2 linked regions of the Homo sapiens genome follow. The protein of the gene in region 2 binds, or shares a complex with, the protein of the main gene of each other region. Each region holds a gene or a part of one and is shown on either strand. Other genes may lie near its edges. The genes, in order: CAMLG and GET1.

What was found.
Region 1: GET1 (region 2) and CAMLG share a complex: the UniProt entries of both Homo sapiens proteins name them as parts of the golgi to ER traffic (GET) complex.

The regions. Positions count from the first base shown.
Region 1 is NC_000005.10:134,731,861-134,741,547, reverse strand, and holds the start of CAMLG (guided entry of tail-anchored proteins factor CAMLG), read right to left. Parts: upstream 3,001-9,687; 5' UTR 2,928-3,000; coding exon 2,756-2,927; intron 486-2,755; coding exon 25-485; intron 1-24. UniProt on the Homo sapiens protein: Required for the post-translational delivery of tail-anchored (TA) proteins to the endoplasmic reticulum.
Region 2 is NC_000021.9:39,389,697-39,398,480, forward strand, and holds the end of GET1 (guided entry of tail-anchored proteins factor 1), read left to right. Parts: intron 1-1,001; coding exon 1,002-1,167; exon of another isoform or gene 1,168-1,780; intron 1,781-2,072; coding exon 2,073-2,140; intron 2,141-3,469; coding exon 3,470-3,584; intron 3,585-7,169; coding exon 7,170-7,243; 3' UTR 7,244-8,193; downstream 8,194-8,784. Other genes in the region: GET1-SH3BGR (WRB-SH3BGR readthrough), read left to right, coding at 1,002-1,167, 2,073-2,140. UniProt on the Homo sapiens protein: Required for the post-translational delivery of tail-anchored (TA) proteins to the endoplasmic reticulum (ER).

The sequences.
Region 1 (9,687 bases), on a different chromosome or scaffold from region 2:
AATAATTTACAGATCTTTTCTTACCAAGTATTTGCAAACAAAAGCTCTGACTCCAAGAGCAAGAAGAGCACATCCCACCAATCTAAATATTCGAAAAGAGTCAAATTCTTCTGTTGTATTTCCATCCTCTTGACTGGGTTTTTCACTAATCAGCTGTTTCCTTAGCTTCATTGCTTCTTCGAATCTGGAAAGGTACTGCTCTAGGCCATGGCGGGAACCCCTCTGGACCGAGTCCGCTGTCAGGTCCCCTCTGTTCCGCTGCCGGAGCTCAAGGTTGACATCACTACTGCACTCAGGTGGTTTAATGAACGAGTCCAATTTGTCTCCCAGTTGGGTCCCCTTTACCTCGGCCACACCACCCTGCTGGTCAGTTGTTCCTGTACTGACTGAATCACCCAGCACTACTCGCTTTGAAACGGAAGGAACGCTGAGGGAGTTCAGTTTATCACTGTCCTGCTGCTTTGATTTTGTTTGACTTTCTTCTTCTGAGAAAAGAAATGTAAAAGCCTTATGTATTTATTCCATACTGGCAAACACCTTACATGTTTATGTTTTAAAATATGCTGTTGCAGCTAGAACTCAGCAGCCTCTGCATCAAAATAAATAAATACCGATTCTGCATTAAAGAAAAGCTGGTTTCGGCCAGGTGCCGTGGCTCACGCCTGTAATCCCAACACTTTGGGAGGCTGAGGCGGGCGGATCATGAGGTCAAGAGATTGAGACCATCCTAGCCAACATGGTGAAACCCCGTCTCTACTAAAAATACAAAAATTAGCTGGGTGTGGTGGCGTGTGTCTGTAGTCCCAGCTGCCTATAGTCCCAGCTACTCTGGCTGAGGCAGGAGAATCACTTGAAACCCGGGGGGAGGAGGTTGCAGACACTGCGCCACTACACTCCATCTGCATCTGCCTGGCGACAGAGTGAGACTCCATCTCAAAACAAAAAAAAGAAAAAAGCTGGATTCTTCCTCTACACCCTCAAAATGTATCACCCAAAATGAATATTCTGCAGAGGAAATAACCCAAACTTTGTGGGTAGGAGATAAGATTAGTAGACAAACTGGGAAAGATATTCAGAGATGGAGCAAGCTGAAAAGACCAACTTTTTATGGATAATATATCCCAGATGTATGATTGCATTGCCTGCCTTAGCTTATTTGGTTAAAAATATAAAATCAGTAAAGCCTTTTAAAATCTATATTTTAAAATTAGATTTCTGAATCCAGTGCCCTATGAGCATAGGGTGTGGCATATCCCAAAGCTACTGTTTATGTAGTCAGGCAGCCATTAGTAGGCACTTCAGCAGTTTTAAGACACTACTCTGGGGTTTTGTTTTTGTTTTTGTTTTAAAAAAAAGGCCAGGCACAATGGCTCACACCTGTAATCCTGTAAGCCCAGCACTTTTGGAAGCCAAGGCTGGTGGATCACTTGAGCCCAGAAGTTCCAGACCAGCTTAGGAAACATAGTGAGACCCCCCCATCTCCACACACACAATTTTTTTTTAAATTAGCCAGGCATGGTGGTGTACACCTGTGGTCCTAGCTACTCCGGAGGCTGAGGTAGCAGGATTGCTTAAGCCCAGGAGTTTGAGGCTGCAGTAAGCTATGATCATGCCACTGCACTCCAGCCTGGCCTACAGAGGGAGACCCTGTCTCAAAAAATAAAACAACCTTTAAAGACATAAAATTTTCAAAGCAAAAGAACAAAATATAGAAAGTACCTCAGGTAAGATCATAAATAATGCTTTAAGAATAAATAGCCCGATAGAAAAATGTTTCTTCTATTGTTCTAGAAGAATTTGAAATGGTTTTCTTACCTCTCATTTGAACTGCCTAAAAGTTCAGAGCTATACACCTAAAGCCTTACAGAACAAAAGTCACAAAGATATAAGGAGCTTGCGACCAGTGACTAAAGGCCAATTACTAAAGGAAACACTGGAAACTTAGATAACACTAGGGCGCGCTAATTGCTCAATTATACTCACGTGAAATAAATTTTTTTTAAAGAAAATCATTGGACATGTGTTTGGGGGAGGAAGGAGGCGCTCTCCTTAGAAATGCAGCTCCAGACATCAATCACAACAATATCCCCTCATGAGGAGAGGAAACTCTCAGGTGTGCACTTCGCACTTGCTGGGTCTCTGAAGAATGCTCACTCTCACTTTTCCCACCTTTTCTAGCCGGCCCGTAGGTGACAGTGTTGACGGCACTGAACACAAACACTAGGATATGAGCACAAGAGTCCCTGATACACGTAGGATGAACTAGCGGGCAGTTCAGTAAAGACAGGCTGATGTGGGCGGACAGGAGTTACACAGCAAAAGGCAAAAGAAGGTAGACGCTAGAGAAGGCACTGTAAGGAAAAGCACTTGGAACCTTAAGAAGGAAAGCCATCTTCCTAAGGGGAGCAGTAGACATGACAGTCTGGGGATACAACGTGCGCCCTTCAAGAAAGGCGAGGAGTGGCTAAGGAAAAAAGGGGCTGTTCAACGTAACTGGGAAGAGGGAGTGAGAGCTCTGCAGGCAGGGTGGGGAAAATCTCACGGCGAGGCCCCGGGAAAATTGAGGGGAGCGACTAGGAACATCCTGGGGTTCAGGGATGAGAACTTGGGATATCACCGAAGGGGCGGGACAGAGAGGAAATCAAAGAGCAAGGCTTGGTCAAAAAGGTCAGAGGAGTGGAGGTGGGAGAGGGAAGAATGACCCTGAAGATTCAAGGTGATGGGCGGGAGACTGAGGGGAAATCGAGGCTCTTACCCGCGCCGCTCCCGGGCCTGTGAAAGCCCATGATCCGGTTGATGCGCTGTTCCGAGTTCATGAGCAGCTTTCTCCGACGCAGCTCCGCCCGACGCTGGGAAGCCGACAGACCTGAGCCCGCTGGGACCCCCGGCCTCTCCCCGCCGTCGGTAGCGACGGCCATCGACTCCATCCTCCCGTCCACAGTCTGGGAGGGGTGGCAGTGGCGGTGATGTTGGCCGCCGCTGCGAGGGCGATGACTAGAGGCCGGGCCGCAGGGCGCGCGTCCCCTTCCCACTATAGACCCGCCCCCGAGCGCGGTCCCGGAGCCTGTGAGCTAAGCACTCACGCACCGCCCCACGCGACCAAGCGCGAGGCTCTGGCCGCCATCTTGAGTGAGGGCAGCGCTGGACGCCCTCGTGCCTCCCCAACTCTTCTGGCCCTCACCCAACAGCCCCCTCTGCTGTTCACTCGGAGGTGAAGAAAACCAGCACCCAGGGCCGGGAGTGGTGGCTCACGCCTGTAATCCTAGCACTTTGGAAGGCCGAGGCGGGCGGATCACGAGGTCACGATTTCGAGAGTAGCCTGGCCAACATGGTGACCCCCTCCCCCCTCCCCCCACCCGTCTCTACTAAAAATACAAAAACTTAGCCGGGCGGGGTGGCGCGCGCCTGTAATCCCAGCTACTCGGGAGGCTGAGGCAGGAGAATCTCTTGGACCCAGGAGGCGGAGGTTGCAGTGAGCCGAGATCGCGCCACTGTTCTCCAGCCTGGGCTACAGAGCGAGACTCTGTCTCGAGAAAAAAAAAAAGAAAGAAAAGAAAACCGGGAGTGGGAAAGGGATGGCAGTAAGTAGGTCAGCCTAGATTTGGTGCCAGGAAGCAAAATGGAGGTTGCAGCGGCAGTCGCTTGTTTACAGACCCGCGGCCTCGCCTGTAGGCAATGGGAATACGTAACCCTGGGAGCCGCACTTAAAGGGAGCCTTACGCTGGGATTTGTTCTTGGTGCCTGTTCCTCATCCTTAACTTCTCTACGGCAAAGTATACGGCTGATGTGTTCCTAGGCTTTCCTCGCGTTTTGTGCGTTTTTATTCAAATTAGAATTTCCCATTGAAACCTTTCGTGCACATTCTATCTAAATTGCCAACACTCCCCATTCCCCTTCACCTTGTTTTTTCTCCTTGTCGTTCATGACCACCTCGCATGCTAAAGATGCTCCAGCCTGGGCGACAGAACGAGACTCCGTCTCAAAAAAAAAAAAGGAAAAGAAAAGAAAAAAACAAAAAGGCCGGGAGCGGTGGCTCACGTCTGTAATCCTAACTTTGGGAGGCCGAGGCAGGCGGATCACCTGAGGTCAGGAGTTCGAGACCAGCCTGGCCAATATGGCAAAACCCCGTCTCTACTAAAAATACAAAAATTAGCCTGACCTGGTGGCATGCACCTGTAATCCCAGCTACTTGGGAGGCTGAGGCAGGAGAATCGCTTGAACCTGGGAGGCAGAAATTGCAGTGAGCCGAGATCATGCCACTGCACTCCAGCCTGGGCGACAGAGGGAGACTCCGTCTCAAAAATACATATATAAAAGAAATAAATAAAATAAAATCAGAACAAATGACTGGGCGCGGTGGCTCATGCCTGTAATTCCAGCACTTTGTGAGGGCTGAGATGGGTGGATCACTTGAGGCCAGGAATTCGAGACCAGTCTGGCCAACGTGGCAAAACCCTGACTGTACTAAAAATACAAAAATTAGTCGGGCTTGGTGGCGTGTGCCTGTGGTCCCAGCTACTTGGGAGGCTAAGGTGGGAGGATCACCTGATCCTGGGGAGGTTGAAGCTGCAGTGAGCAATGATCGGGCCACTGCACTCCAGACTGGGTGACACAGTGAGACCCCATCTCAAAAAAGTTTTTTCAGAAAAAAATAATATATTTGCTATATTGTAATGGATCCAGTCTGGATTATAGTCATCATTAATAGCAATACAGTCATAAAATATAATTTTAAGTATGTTTTCAGGCAGGAAGGAGCCACAAAGGCAAAAGAGCTTAGGGCCCTTGAAAGTCATAATGCAGCCTTGGCATTCAGTAATGACTTACTAAGTGAATGATTAGATGAATGAAGGAATTGAATCCATCAACCCTTGCTAACAGGGAGCATGGCCAGTTCACACCTGAGGCTGAGGAGGGTTTTGAAGCAGCTTACTGGGTGGGCCCCCTGCAACTAAGCCTGCCACACAATCACCCTCAAAATAAGGAAGTGGGTGAAATACCACTTAGAAGATAATAAAATACTATATTTATATTAATACTGAAAAAGAAGTGAAAACAAAAGAAACTTCGGTTTGGATTCAACAACATAAGGAGCTCAAAGAATATACAGACTGAACTTTCACCCTTGATTGGATGAAAGTTAAATCCCAGGGACATCCACTAGTTAATAATTTTAAAGTATTAGAGGAAGTTCTTCTGCATATCTGCACAGACATAGATCTCTGAGCCCTAGACTTCCTTAAAACAATTTTACACACAACTGAAAATAATGGAAATAACTGTCAAATAGTAACAAATGTGCAGAATTTGATGAGGCACAGCCCTGATCAATCAAGACGGTTCCAGAAAGGGTTTGAGGAGCTAAATTAGAATTATAGTGTTATATTCAATGATATAAGCATCAAGCAAATTATTTCCAAGTAATATTTCATTCCTCCTTGAAACTGAGGAAGCCGTATAACTGAACTTGAACAGAATTATAAAAAATGTCTGGGCTGGCATGTGGGAGGTCCAGGCAGGAGGATCACTTGTGGCAAGGAGCTCAAGACTGACCTGGGCAACATAGTGAGACCCCCTTCTCTATTTAAAAACAAAGAAAAGAGATCGGGAGGCCAGGTGCGGTGGCTCACACCTTTAATCCCAGCACTTTGGGAGGCTGAGGTGGGTGGATCACTTGAGGTCAGGTGTTCGAAACCAACCTGGCCAACATGATGAAACCCATCTCCACTAAAAATACAAAAATTAGCCAGGCATGGTGGCACACACCTGTAATCCCAGCTACTCGGGAGGGTGAGGCAGGAGAATCACTCAAACCCAGGAGGCAGAGGTTGCAGTGAGCTGAGATTGCACCACTGCACTCTAGCCTGGGCGACAGAGTGAAACTCTGTCTCAGAAAAACAAAAAAAAAGAGTCCAGGCGCAGTGGCTCACACCTGTAATCCCAACGCTTTGGGAGGCCAAGGTGGGAGGACTGCTTAAGCTTAGGAGTTCAAGACCAGCCTGGGTAACATAGTGAGACCTCGTCTCTAGAAAAAAAAAAAAATCAAAAAATTTAAAAAAATTTAAAACGAGGCAGGAAGTTTGCTGCAATGAGCCATGATTGCATCACTCCACAACCACCTGGGTGATAGAGCTAGACCTTGTCTCAAAAGAAAAAGAGTAAAAGAATGAATTGATGAAACTGCTTAAAAGAAATTCAAGAACAATTTTCAGAAATTAGCAAATTACTTCCTCTAAATTCCATAATGAGTCAAATTTTTATTTTTATAAACACAGGGTCTTACTCTATGGCCTAGGCTGGAGTGCAGGGGCACAATCATAGCTCACTGCAGCCTACAGCCTTGAACTCCTGGGCTCAAGCAATCCTCCTGCTTCTGCCTCCTGAGTAGCTAAGGCTACAGGATTGAGCCCAGATAATTTTTTTTTTTTTTGAGATGGAGTCTTGCTCTGTCGCCCAGGCTGGAGTGCAGTGGCGCAATCTTGGCTCACTGCAAGCTCCGCCTCCTGGGTTCAAACCATTCTCCTGCCTCAGCCTCCCAAGTAGCTGAGACTACAGGCGCCGGCCACCACACCCGGCTAATTTTTTTTGTATTTTTAGTAGAGACGGGGTTTCACCGTGTTAGCCAGGATGGTCTCGATCTCCTGACCTCGTGATCCGCCCGCCTTGGCCTCCCAAAGTGCTGGGATTACAGGCATGAGCCACCGTCCCCGGCCGAGCCCAGATAATTTTTTAAAAAAAATTTTTTGTAGAGATGGGGTCTCTATGTTGCTGGTCTTAAATTCCTGGGCTCAAACAATCCAATCTTCTCAGCCTCCCAAAGTGCTGGGATTACAGGTGTGAGCCCCTGGACCCAGCCAGAAATTTTATTTCAATAATTTTCTCAAGTATAGTTGTTAAACACCCTTAAACACTCAAAGTTTAAAAGAAACAGAGTGAATTAACAGTTTCAATAGGAGACATGTCAATAGTCCTCTCCTTAATGAGAATGGAGCTTAGTATAACAAACTGAAAGCCAAGTAATGAACCTCATGAAATAAATGTAATTTTAGATGGTACTGAATATTTTGTTTTACAGTATTTATTTATTTATTTACTCTGTCGCCAAGGCTAGAGTGCAGTGGTGCCATCTCTCGGCTCAGTGCAACCTCCACCTCCTGGGTTCAAGCTATTCTCCTGCCTCAGCCTCCTGAGTAGCTGGGATTACAGGCGCGCACCACCATGCCCAGCTAATTTTTGTAATTTTAGTAGAAATGGGGTTTCCGCATGTTGGCCAGGCTGGTCTCCAACTCCTGACCTCAGGTGATCCACCTGCCTCGGCCTCCCAAAGTGCTGAGATTACAGGCGTGAGCCACCGCGCCGGGCCTATATTAACTTTTAGTATGTTATAAACACTGCAAAACAGGCCGGGCATGGTGGCACACGCCTGTAGTCCCAGCTACTTGGGAGACTGAGGCACGAGAATCGCTTGAACTCAGGAGGTGGAGGTGGCAGTGAGCCAAGATCATGCCATTGCACTCCAGCCAGGGTGACAGAGGGAGACTACGTCGCAAAAAAAAAAAAAAAAGTTAATATAAATGTGTGGATGTTGCCGTGGTTTGGGACAAAATCATTTGGCTCCTTGGATAATGTTACTCTCCGATGTTACCCCAGGGTGACACTGATGAGGATTTCTGCTACTCTAGGAGAGTGGCAATTTAAGGTTTCTGGCCTCCCTTGCTCAGGCAGTCCCCATGCTTTTTTTTATTCTTTGAGACAGAGTCTCCCTCTGTTGCCCAGGCTGGAGTGCAGTGGCTCCAACGGGGCTCACTGCAGCCTTGACTTCCCAGGCTCAACTGATCCTCTCACCTAGCCTCCCAAGTAGCTGAGACCACAGGTACATGCCACCACAGCTGGCTATTTTTTATTTATTTATTTATTTAGAGACAAAGTCTCTTGCTCTATCACCCAGGCTGGAGGGCAGTGGTGCGATCTCGGCTCACTGCAACCTCCACCTCCCGGGTTCAAGTGATTTTCCTGCCTCAGCCTCCCAAGTAGCTGGGACTACAGGCATGTGCCAGCATGCTTGGCTAATTTTTTGCGTTTCTAATAGAGATGGGGTTTCATTGTGTTAGCCAGGATTGTCTCAATCTCCTGACCTTGTGATCCACCCGCCTCGGCCTCCCAAAGTGCTGGGATTACAGGTGTGAGCCACTGCACCTGGCCTATTTTTTATTTTTAAAGACAGGGTCTTGCCATGTTGCCCAGGCTGTTCTTGAACTTCTGAGCTCAAGCAATCCTCCTGCCTCAGACTCCCAAAGTGCTGGGATTACAGGCATGAGCTACCACGCTTGGCCTCTCCAGGCTTGTGAAGCCCTCCTGTACCTGCTGTTTTCAGCACTCCTATAAAGTGAATTATTTTCATGCCTCATCTCTTTTGCCAAATCATTGCACATGAGTATTATCCTGACTCAAAACCCCTAATACTTGAAGGAAGAATTCAGGGAGAAAGCTTCCAACACAGACCAATTGGTTTGTGCTGACCTTGCCATAACCCTGGCTGAATTGCTAAGAATCTTATCCTTTTAAATGATACTGCAGTTGGATGTCACCACGGAGAAGCACGATTTGAGGAAGTGATAATTATGACACACTGATTAATCCTGCCAACCAATATAAAGAAATAGTCCCCGTTCATGAGGACAAACCCATGCTCCAAATCATAACATGCTGATGATAAATTAGCATTCTCATAATATGTGGTAGGAACTAAAAAAAGTCTCTTGATTTATAATAGTAATCACTTAAAACTTAACATAGGTAAAATATTCACAAAAAGGAAAAAACAAAAACAAAACAAAAAACTGGCTGGGCATGGTGGCTCACACCTGTAATCCCAGCACTTTGATAGGCCGAGGCTGGAGGATCACTTGAGCCCAGACACTCGAGACCAGCCTGGGCAACATGGTGAAACCCCATCTCTACGAAAACTACAAAAAATAAAAATAAATAAAAATAGCCTGTAATCCCAGTCACTTGGGAGGCTGAGGTGGGAGAATCCTTTGAGCCCAGCAGGTCAAGGCTGCAGCGAGTTATGATCCTGTCAATGCACTTACTGTGTGACAGTGAGACCTTGTCTAAAAAAAAAGAAAAAAAAAATGAACATGTAGATGCTCAATGAATAACTGTGAAAACTTGGAATTAATTCATATTTCCAATATTGAGAGAAAAATAATAAATATTGATTAAATAGCTAATAATATGCTATTATGCAAACACTAGCAATGCTAAAGTAGTATGTATAATGTATAATGCAAAATTGAATCTTAACTATGATTTATGAGAGAATACAAAATTCAAATGCATTGAACAAAGAGTGGAAGGGAATAGGGAACATAAAAAGACACCTTTTATGATTGTGGATGGACTTTCTAGTTTCACTAAGTTATGTCTGAGCTTGTTCATTCATTCATCAATTATTTGAATGCCTAATATATATCAGCTACTAAGCTAGTTAAGAGTGTAAGAGTGTTAAATTTTCAGGTGGAAATAAATTCCCAGGAAACAATCCTCTACCATCTCAGTGTCTCACCAGTTATCTAAAATAGTAGTGTTTTTTGATAATCTCTAGGTTGTAAACCCTCAAATTGGCATTCATAAAGCAATTGTGAAGACCTATTTAGAATGTAATTAGTGAACATCTAAAAAAGA
Region 2 (8,784 bases):
TATCACCATGCCTGGCCCTGATGCCTCTTGCCAGGGTGCCATTCTGTGGGAAGGCCCTCTGCACTGAGCTTGGGCACTGACATTCTGCCCTGGGCCCCTGCCTCACCACTGTTACCCTGCACCTGCACCTTGCTCTGCCCCGTCTAATCTAGGACTGAATTCTTCTGGGAGGGGAGAGGTTACATGTTCCCTGTCACTGGAATAACAGCTCTGGTGATGGAATTGGTTTTCATTTCACAATTGCAATTTTATTTATAGTGAAACAGACAAACATTTGTATTGGAGCAAATTCATGGGCATATCTGTAAAAGGAAAAATATAGTTTGAATAGCAATTTGAATATGAGTTTTTTTTTTTTTTTTTTTTGTGGTCGTTATAGGGAGCCGAAAAAGGCAGCAGAGGCTGGCTGTGTAGGTAGAGGGCAGCTTGCCCAGTTGGCAGAGGTGGGAGTAGGATGTTGGAGGAAGGTGTACCGGTTCTGTCTGGCCAAACCCATGCTGGAGTCACCTCAAAAGCAGTGGCAGGGGAGTTCCCTCAAGGGGCTGCTCCAGACTGCCTGGAGATGGGGCTGGCTTGGATTCCAAAGAAAGAAGCACTAAACGCCAGGGTGATAAGTCCACAGCATTCATGACGGGAACTTACAAGAGCTGCGGCAGTCCCGGGACAGCCAGTGAGAGAAAGGGACATTTACCTAGGGCTGTCTGCCACCCGGGGGTTGGGGTATGGAGTGTATGTGGGAGTTTAAGGACTTTGTCATGGTGGGGCTAGTTTGTAGGTGTTTCTCAGCAGGATGAATCTCCCAGTGTTCTCCAGCAACAGCCTTTGCTCTTTATCAGTCCTGGGAACGTTCACGGCCGCAGTTTGCATTCAGTCCTGCAGGGACGCACACAACTGGCTGGGTCACAGAGTGGTCAGGGCATAGACAGAAAGTAGCGGGGGACTGGGGAACCCTCCTGTGACCCGTGTTGGAAGGTGCTGATCCCCGTTGTCCGCCCTGCCAGATGTCCAGGGTGCTGCAGAAGGACGCGGAGCAGGAGTCACAGATGAGAGCGGAGATCCAGGACATGAAGCAGGAGCTCTCCACAGTCAACATGATGGACGAGTTTGCCAGATATGCCAGGCTGGAAAGAAAGATCAACAAGATGACGGATAAGCTCAAAACCCATGGTACTGTGTCCCTTGCAGCCTGGAGGCTTCATGAGAGCGGATGAATAGAGAAGTCTGTATGTGAAGATTAGTAGAATACATACTTTGCTTCTTGGATGTTCTGAATATTGATGGAAACTTAAGTTATCTGGAGGAAACTCAGTAATAAGTATTACTTTCCTCTTATTTGCTGGTGAACCTTTGCTTTCTAAGCACAGAAATATCTAAGATCCTCTCAGATTTTCCTCAGAGCCAACTCTTTAAAATTTTAAGCTAACTCTTAAAAATTGTAGGTTTTCATTTTTAAATTCATCACTTTTCTGAGAGAAGCCCAGAAAAAAAGTCTCACAGTGGATTCCCAGAGGCTTTTGTTCCACTCTCTAGAAAAATGCCCAGCAGTGTCCTCTTCTGAGTGTCACCTCCCGGGTCCAGTGTCCTGTGATGAAGAGCGCTTTCTCAGGGCAGCCCGTGTGCTGAGGGACCCCGGTCACAGTGTGTGCACAGTCAGAGAGCTGTCTCTGTGGCTAGGAAAACAGACAGAGGGGCCTGTCCAGGCCCAGGACAAGCTGGACTCCCACCAGGGGTTCGTGTACTGTGCACACTGGGAAATAAGGAGGAAAATTTAGTCCTGTTGGTAAGTGGTAACTGTATTATACAAAGAATCTTTGATTTCATGAGTCGTTTTAAGAGTTTTCAAAATTAAAGCTATTCAAATCTCAATCTGAGTCGGATACTATTTTAAATAATGGCATAATGAGATGGTGGGTGACTTAAAAATTCTATTTTATATTTTCTAAATATGTTGAGCGATTGTTCCATTTATAATCAGAAAGTGTATTATAAGGGAAAATAACATTTCTGTGTATTTGAATATTTTGTTAATTTTTCAGGACTGACATAATTATTTATCCTGTTTTTCCTTTCAGTGAAAGCTCGGACAGCTCAATTAGCCAAGATAAAATGGGTGATAAGTGTCGCTTTCTACGTATTGCAGGTAAGTGTGCTAGAGCGTCAGCCGGGTCATTGGAGTTGGTGACCCCGGCCTCCAGAGCCGTGTCTGCAGATCCAGGGCTGGGAGTTCGGGCTGTTCCACCTTCAGCTGTCGTGTCGTGTGTCCCTGCCCACATGGAGCTCTAAACACTCTCGGTCTCTAAGTCAGACTAAAAGGAAGCCTTTCTCTTGAGGAGAGTTGTTAAAGTTTGGGACTTTTTGGCAGATGGACTGTGAAGTAAGTTCTCGGAGAGCTTTCACCATGCCTGCATCCCAGTGTGGTTTGAAGGGCCTGGTGGGATGAAGCGAGAGGCTTATAGATGACATCAGTTTTTTCTGAGATCTTCAATACTTTTGGCCCTTACTTGTTACCTGGTGTACTTCATGCACGCTCTCCACCCTCCAGGTAGAGAACCAGCTTTTCCGACTGGAATTGGCTTCTAGCCTCCCTGCCTGGGGCTTAACCCTCATAGCCTCTCCTGGAGCTGTTGGGCTCTGCTCTGCCCCGAGAGTGCAGTTGTGCTGCCCAGACACCTTTAGCAGCTGCCGTAAATATCCGAGTTGCAGTACCATGTGATCCGGTAACCAAGGCAAAGGATTCAAGCCCACCCCCAAAAAAGCTTAGTTTGGCAGGGTATATTGAAGGAAATTAATTCTGAGGCACTGTCATTTGCTAAGAGATAAGTTTCCGCAGACAAAGGAGTTAGGCCAGCAACCCTCTTTCATGTCTCTTCTGAGCGGCCTGTTCAAGCCAGGAAGGGGACAGATGACAATCGAAGGAATGCTGTGGGGGGATGGAGGGAAATAAAGCATCCCCCACCATTGAAACTTACACAGGGCTCACCTCTGCGTCCCTTGCTAACACTGGTGTACGTGGGAGAATTCACTATTTTTTCCAAGGATGGCTTTCGTCACTAATAAGGTGTGTTGAGCATACAGTCTGGCTACTCAAACGAGATACTCAGTGAGAAAAGCACACCCGTGTTATGGGAGACTTTGGTTAGTTTATCAGCTAATTTAAATTATGTGTAGATTGTGTTCATCCTAAAACAGTGAAATGCCAGTTCACATAGGAAGGCTCGCCTACTTGTTGGCAGTGTTCAGACATGCTGCTGAGCTCGTCTTTAATTTGACTTTCTCATTCAAGGTTTCACCAAGGGACATTAGTGGCTGTGCGTGCTCATCTGTTGTCTGTGGGGACTGGGTTCCTAGGCTTGAGGTGCTCAGTCTGGAGAGTTTTCCTGGTTTTATTTTCGCATTTCCCTGTCCTCCCTTCTGTGTGGTCGGTTGTGTGATTGGCAGGCTGCTTTGCTCACCAGAGGTGTCTTTACAGGCTGCCCTGATGATCTCACTCATTTGGAAGTATTATTCTGTCCCTGTGGCTGTCGTGCCGAGTAAATGGATAACCCCTCTAGACCGCCTGGTAGCCTTTCCTACTAGAGTAGCAGGTAAGAATTTTCTGGAAGATGCAGTGGAAGAGTGTGAATAGGCTTATGTAGAGGTGTGTGGTAGAAGATTAAGTTAGCCTGACATCCTCCTCACCGTCCATTTAGTGAGCGGGGTTTTGTGTCTCAGCCTCACATGAGGCTTCCCATGAAGAAACTGAGGTCTGAAAAAGTTACTTCACTTGTCCAGTGTCACCAAAATGTTAAGGAGCAAAGCTAGGATTCAGTCCTAGGTCTGTTTCCGGGATCCATGCCCAATACGTCAAGTCTGATACCCCATTGAAACACTAGCCGTAGTTCCAAAATTATGTATCTTTTCAATCCCTATTATGGTTGGCTTCTCTGTAGCACTTGCTGCTCCTGGCTATTCTTTTATTTTTTATTTTTTGAGACTGAGTCTCACTCCGTCACCCAGGCTGGAGTCAGTGGTGCGATCTTGGCTCACTGCAACAACCTCTGCCTCCCAGGTTCAAGCAATTCTTATGCCTCAGCCTCCCAACTAGCTGAAATTACAGGCATGCACTACCACGCCCAGCTAATTTTTGTATTTTTAGTAGAGACAGCGTTTCACCATGTTGGCCAGGCTGGTCTCAAACTCCTGACCTTAAGTGATCCTCATGCCTTGGCCTCCCAAAGTACTGAGATTACAGGCATGAACCACTATGCCCAGCCACGTTCTTTTATTTTTGAAGATAAATTTTTTTTAGATATTAAAAGTAGTACATGTCACTATAGAATGATTAGAAATATAGCTATCAATTAAAAATCCCAGCTGGGTGCAGTGGCTCACGCCTGTAATCCTAGCACTTTGGGAGGCCAAGGTGGGCGGATTGCCTGAGCTCAGGAGTTTGAGACCAGCCTGGCCAACATGGTGAAACCCTATCTCTACTAAAATACAAAAAATTAGCTGGGCATGGTGGTGCGTGCCTGTAATTCCAGCTACTTGGGAGGCTGAGGTGTGAGAATCACTTGAATCCGAGAGGTTGCAGTGAGCTGAGATCACGCCAGTGTACCCCAGCCTGGGTGACAGAGTGAGAATCTGTGTCAAATAAAATAAAATAAATAAAAAATAAGATTCCTATTAGCTTTTAATGCTGTGATATGTTTTTCTTTGCCTTTTTTTCCCCATTTATTTTGATATAGTTAAGGTCACCTGGCACATCACATGTTGTGCCTCCTTTTTACTTTATAGGGTAAGCCTATTCCCACATGTTTTAGTTTGTTAGGGTTAAGTGAAATACTATAAACTGGGTAGCTCATAAACAACAGAAATTTATTTCTCACTGTTCCGGAGGCTGGGGAGTCCAAAATCAAGGTGCCGGCAGATTTGGTGTCTGATGATGGCCCATTTTCCAGTTCATGGATGGTGTCTTCTCACTATGTCCTTGCATGGTGGAAGGACAAGCTCCTTTAGGCCTCTTTTATAAGGGCACTAATCCCATTCACACGGACTCTGCCCTTGTGACTTAATCACCTCCCATAAGGCCCCAATTCTTAATGCCATCACTGTGGGGGGTAGCATATTAGCATATGAATTTTAGGGGGATACAAACATTCAGACCATAGCACCATATCAGTACATTTCTTTTCTTTTTTTTCTTCTCTTTTCTTTTTGAGGCAGGGTCTTGCTCTGTTGCCCAGGCTGGCAGTGGCACCCTCATAGCTCACTACAGCCTGGAACTCCTTGGCTCAAGCGGTCCTCCCACCTTAGTCTCCTGAATAGTTAGGATCACAGTTGCACACCACCATGCCCAGCTAATTAAAAAAAAAAGTTTTTTATAGAGATGGGGTCTTGCTTTGTTGCTTAGGTTGGTCCCAAACTCCTGGCATCAAGCAATCCTCCCTCCTCAGCCTCTCAAAGTGCTGGGATTATAGGTGTGTCACCTTGCCTGGCAAATTTCTTTATTAAGGAATTTTCAGTAGCTGTTCTTCATTTAGATATCTCATTTGCAGATTTTCCTGATGAAGGATATTTATTCCGGTCCTGATTTTTTGCTATTAAAGATAATGCTGCAGCACACATACTTGCTGGTCTTTGGTTGTGATTTGTGATTATGTTAGAGGTGAATACTGTATCAAAAGGAATGACTATTTTTTTTTTTTTTAAGACCGAGTCTCACTCTGTCGCCCAGGCTGGAGTGCAGTGGTGTGATCTCTGCTCACTGCAACTTCCACCTCCCAGGTTCAAGTGGTTCTCCTGCCTCAGCCTCCCCGGTAGCTGGGATTACAGGTGCCCACCACACGCCCGACTAGTTTTTGTAGTTTTAGTAGAGACAGGGTTTCACCATGTTGGCCAGGCTGGTCTTGAACTCTTGACCTCAGGTGATCCACCTGCCTTATCCTCCCAAAGTGCTGGGATTACAGGTGTGAGCCACTGTGCCTGGCCAGGAATGGCTGTTTCAAAGACTCCCAATTTAGCTACCACCCCTGTCCCCTTCCCCACCCTTTCCTTCCCCTCTCCTTTGTTTGACACAGCTGGGCCTAGGCCAGGAGCTCTGCACTGCGGCCAGAGAAGCATCCAGCCACCCTTCCATGCATCCAGCAGGTCCATGGGTCACTCTTGCAGCCTGTCTTCCTGGACAGGGGGATATGTATGCCTCTCCATTATTGGTGGGGCAAGAAAGGCATAGGTAGACATTGCTTTGTTTATAATGCTTTCTGAGAAAGGAAAAATAAATAATCTTACAGGTTTGGTTTTGGAATCTATTAATATCATAAATAGTAATGCACATCTCTCTGGCAGGAAAGGGAAATTCAGCCCAGGGTCCACCGTTCACTGCAATTCCTGCTTAGTAAAGAATACAGCCCTATGATTCTATAGAAAGTGACAAATTCGGGCTGGGAATGGTGGCTCACACCTGTAATCCCAGCACTTTTGGAGGCCGAGTTAGGCAAATCATCTGAGGTCAGGAGTTTGAGACTAGCCTGACCTACATGGTGAAACCGTGTCTGTACTAAAAATACAAAATTAGCCGGGTGTCGGCCGGGTGCGGTGGCTCATGCCTGTAATCCCAGCACTTTGGGAGGTCGGGGCGGGCAGATCATGAGTTCAGGAGATCGAGACCACGGTGAAACCCCATCTCTACTAAAAATACAAAAAATTAGCCGGGTGCGGTGGCGGGCGCCTGTAGTCCCAGCTACTCGGGAGGCTGAGGCAGGACAATGGCGTGAACCCGGGAGGTAGAGCTTGCAGTGAGCCAAGATCGCGCCACTGTACTCCCACCTGGGTGACAGAGCGAGACTCTGTCTCAAAAAAAAAATTAGCCAGGTGTGGTGGTGCACACCTGTAATCCCAGCTACTCGGGAGGCTGAGGCAGGAGAATCGCTTGAGCCCGGGAGGCAGAGGTGCAGTGAGCCGAGATCGCACCATTGCACTCCAGCCTGGGGGACAGAGCGAGACTCCGTCTCAAAAAAAAAAAAAAAAAAAGAAAGTGACAAATTTGAACCTATGAAACATAAACTTCACTTCAGCCCAGCACTGCTCAAAAAGAATGGAAATACTCTCTTTGCTGTGAGTTAAAGACAGCAGAGACAGATGGGGGCAGCACTGCTGGTATGCGCTCTCATGGTGAATGTCTTTGTTTTCAGGTGGTGTTGGAATTACCTGTTGGATTTTAGTCTGTAACAAAGTTGTCGCTATTGTGCTTCATCCGTTCAGCTGAACAGGAGGATGGATACAGCCGCGAGGCTAAAAAACGGATTTCCTCTTCCTAGCTTAAAATCTGATTTACACTGTTTTGTTTTTTAAGAAACAAAAGTGCATAGTTTAGATTTTTTTTTTGTTGAATATGTTTGTTCTTGGACTTTATGAGAGAGTCTTATAAGAATCACGATTTTCTACACCTGTCATTGAGCCAAGAAAGTCCAGTTTATGACACGTATGTACTAGTGAACACCGTCCTCGATCTGTACGAAATGTGAAATGTTTAGGGACATCTCCATGCTGTCACTTGTGATTTGCCCTCTTATGTATTTTGGTCATATTGCCAACTGGAAAGTCAAAATTTTCTAACAACTTTAAGTAAGTTCTTTGAAGACTTAGTGCTGTTTTTAATCCAGTTTAGAAAGTAACTTAATTTTAATACCACTACTAAAAATTCGAAAATTTCTTCTTTAATCACATTCAATATGGTTAAAAGAACAACACTAATTGACATTGCGTGGGCTTTTTCTCCCTTTGTTTAAAATGTCATTTGTTGAGCAAGAGTTGTATAGTATTATCTACTTACTTGAGGCTGTTAATTTTTCATTACAGTGTTTTGTAAATGTATCCACGAGACCATGATGCATTGTTTTGTGCTCAACTTGTGTTTTGTATTTAAAGCATTTTGAATGAAGTGTATTTTATAAGCATTTAATATTTATGCTCTTTAGAATGGAACACAGAAAACAAACCTTATAAGTCCTGATTAATCTGAACCAATAACCTGTGTGGCCTACAAAGTATAATTCTATTAAATGTTCCTTAAAACACTTTTTTCTAATTAAAATCTTTGCAAATGCTTGTGTAACTTCCTGCCTTACAGCTACTTGTTTGCTGTGAGCCACCCGCAACTGACAAGTGGCTGTTAACTGAGTCACCATATCCCAGTAAAGCTGAATTTTCTCACTAGTTTCTGCAAGTTCATATTTGTACTCTTTTGTTTCCTAATGATCTAATAAGTAGTTTGTTGTTATTTTAGCTGATTGGACTGTGAGAAGACAAAGTGCTGTGGTCCTTTATTTATTGTCATGCTGAAGGCCACCACAGCAGCTTTTGGGTTCCACTTACTCAAACACACATGCACGCAGGCTTACCCAGCACCAAGTTTACTTAGCTTTAAGAAAGGACAGAGCAGGGAACGCAGCCACAGCCTGGTGGAGGAACTGGACACCAGCTTCCAGTGTCCGTCACCACACGGGATACATTTTGCCCACAAAGGATGAGAAGCCAACCTGGGGAGGAGATGAGAGTAGCACACGGAAGCTGCAGGAACTAGTCCTTCAGACGAAATATAGCACCAAGGGGGCACGTGCCTAACTCCCGTTTTAGTAAGCTGCAGGCAGAAATGATGGTGGACAGTCAACAGTGCACCGGCCATGTAGAGCGTGCCCAGGGAACTGCTGGGATCACTCATCCGCATACAGTGTCCATGATGATACCCGTATCTCTTAAAGATATTCTCATTCAGTTGTTACAAGAATTTTGACAAATCTCACTGAG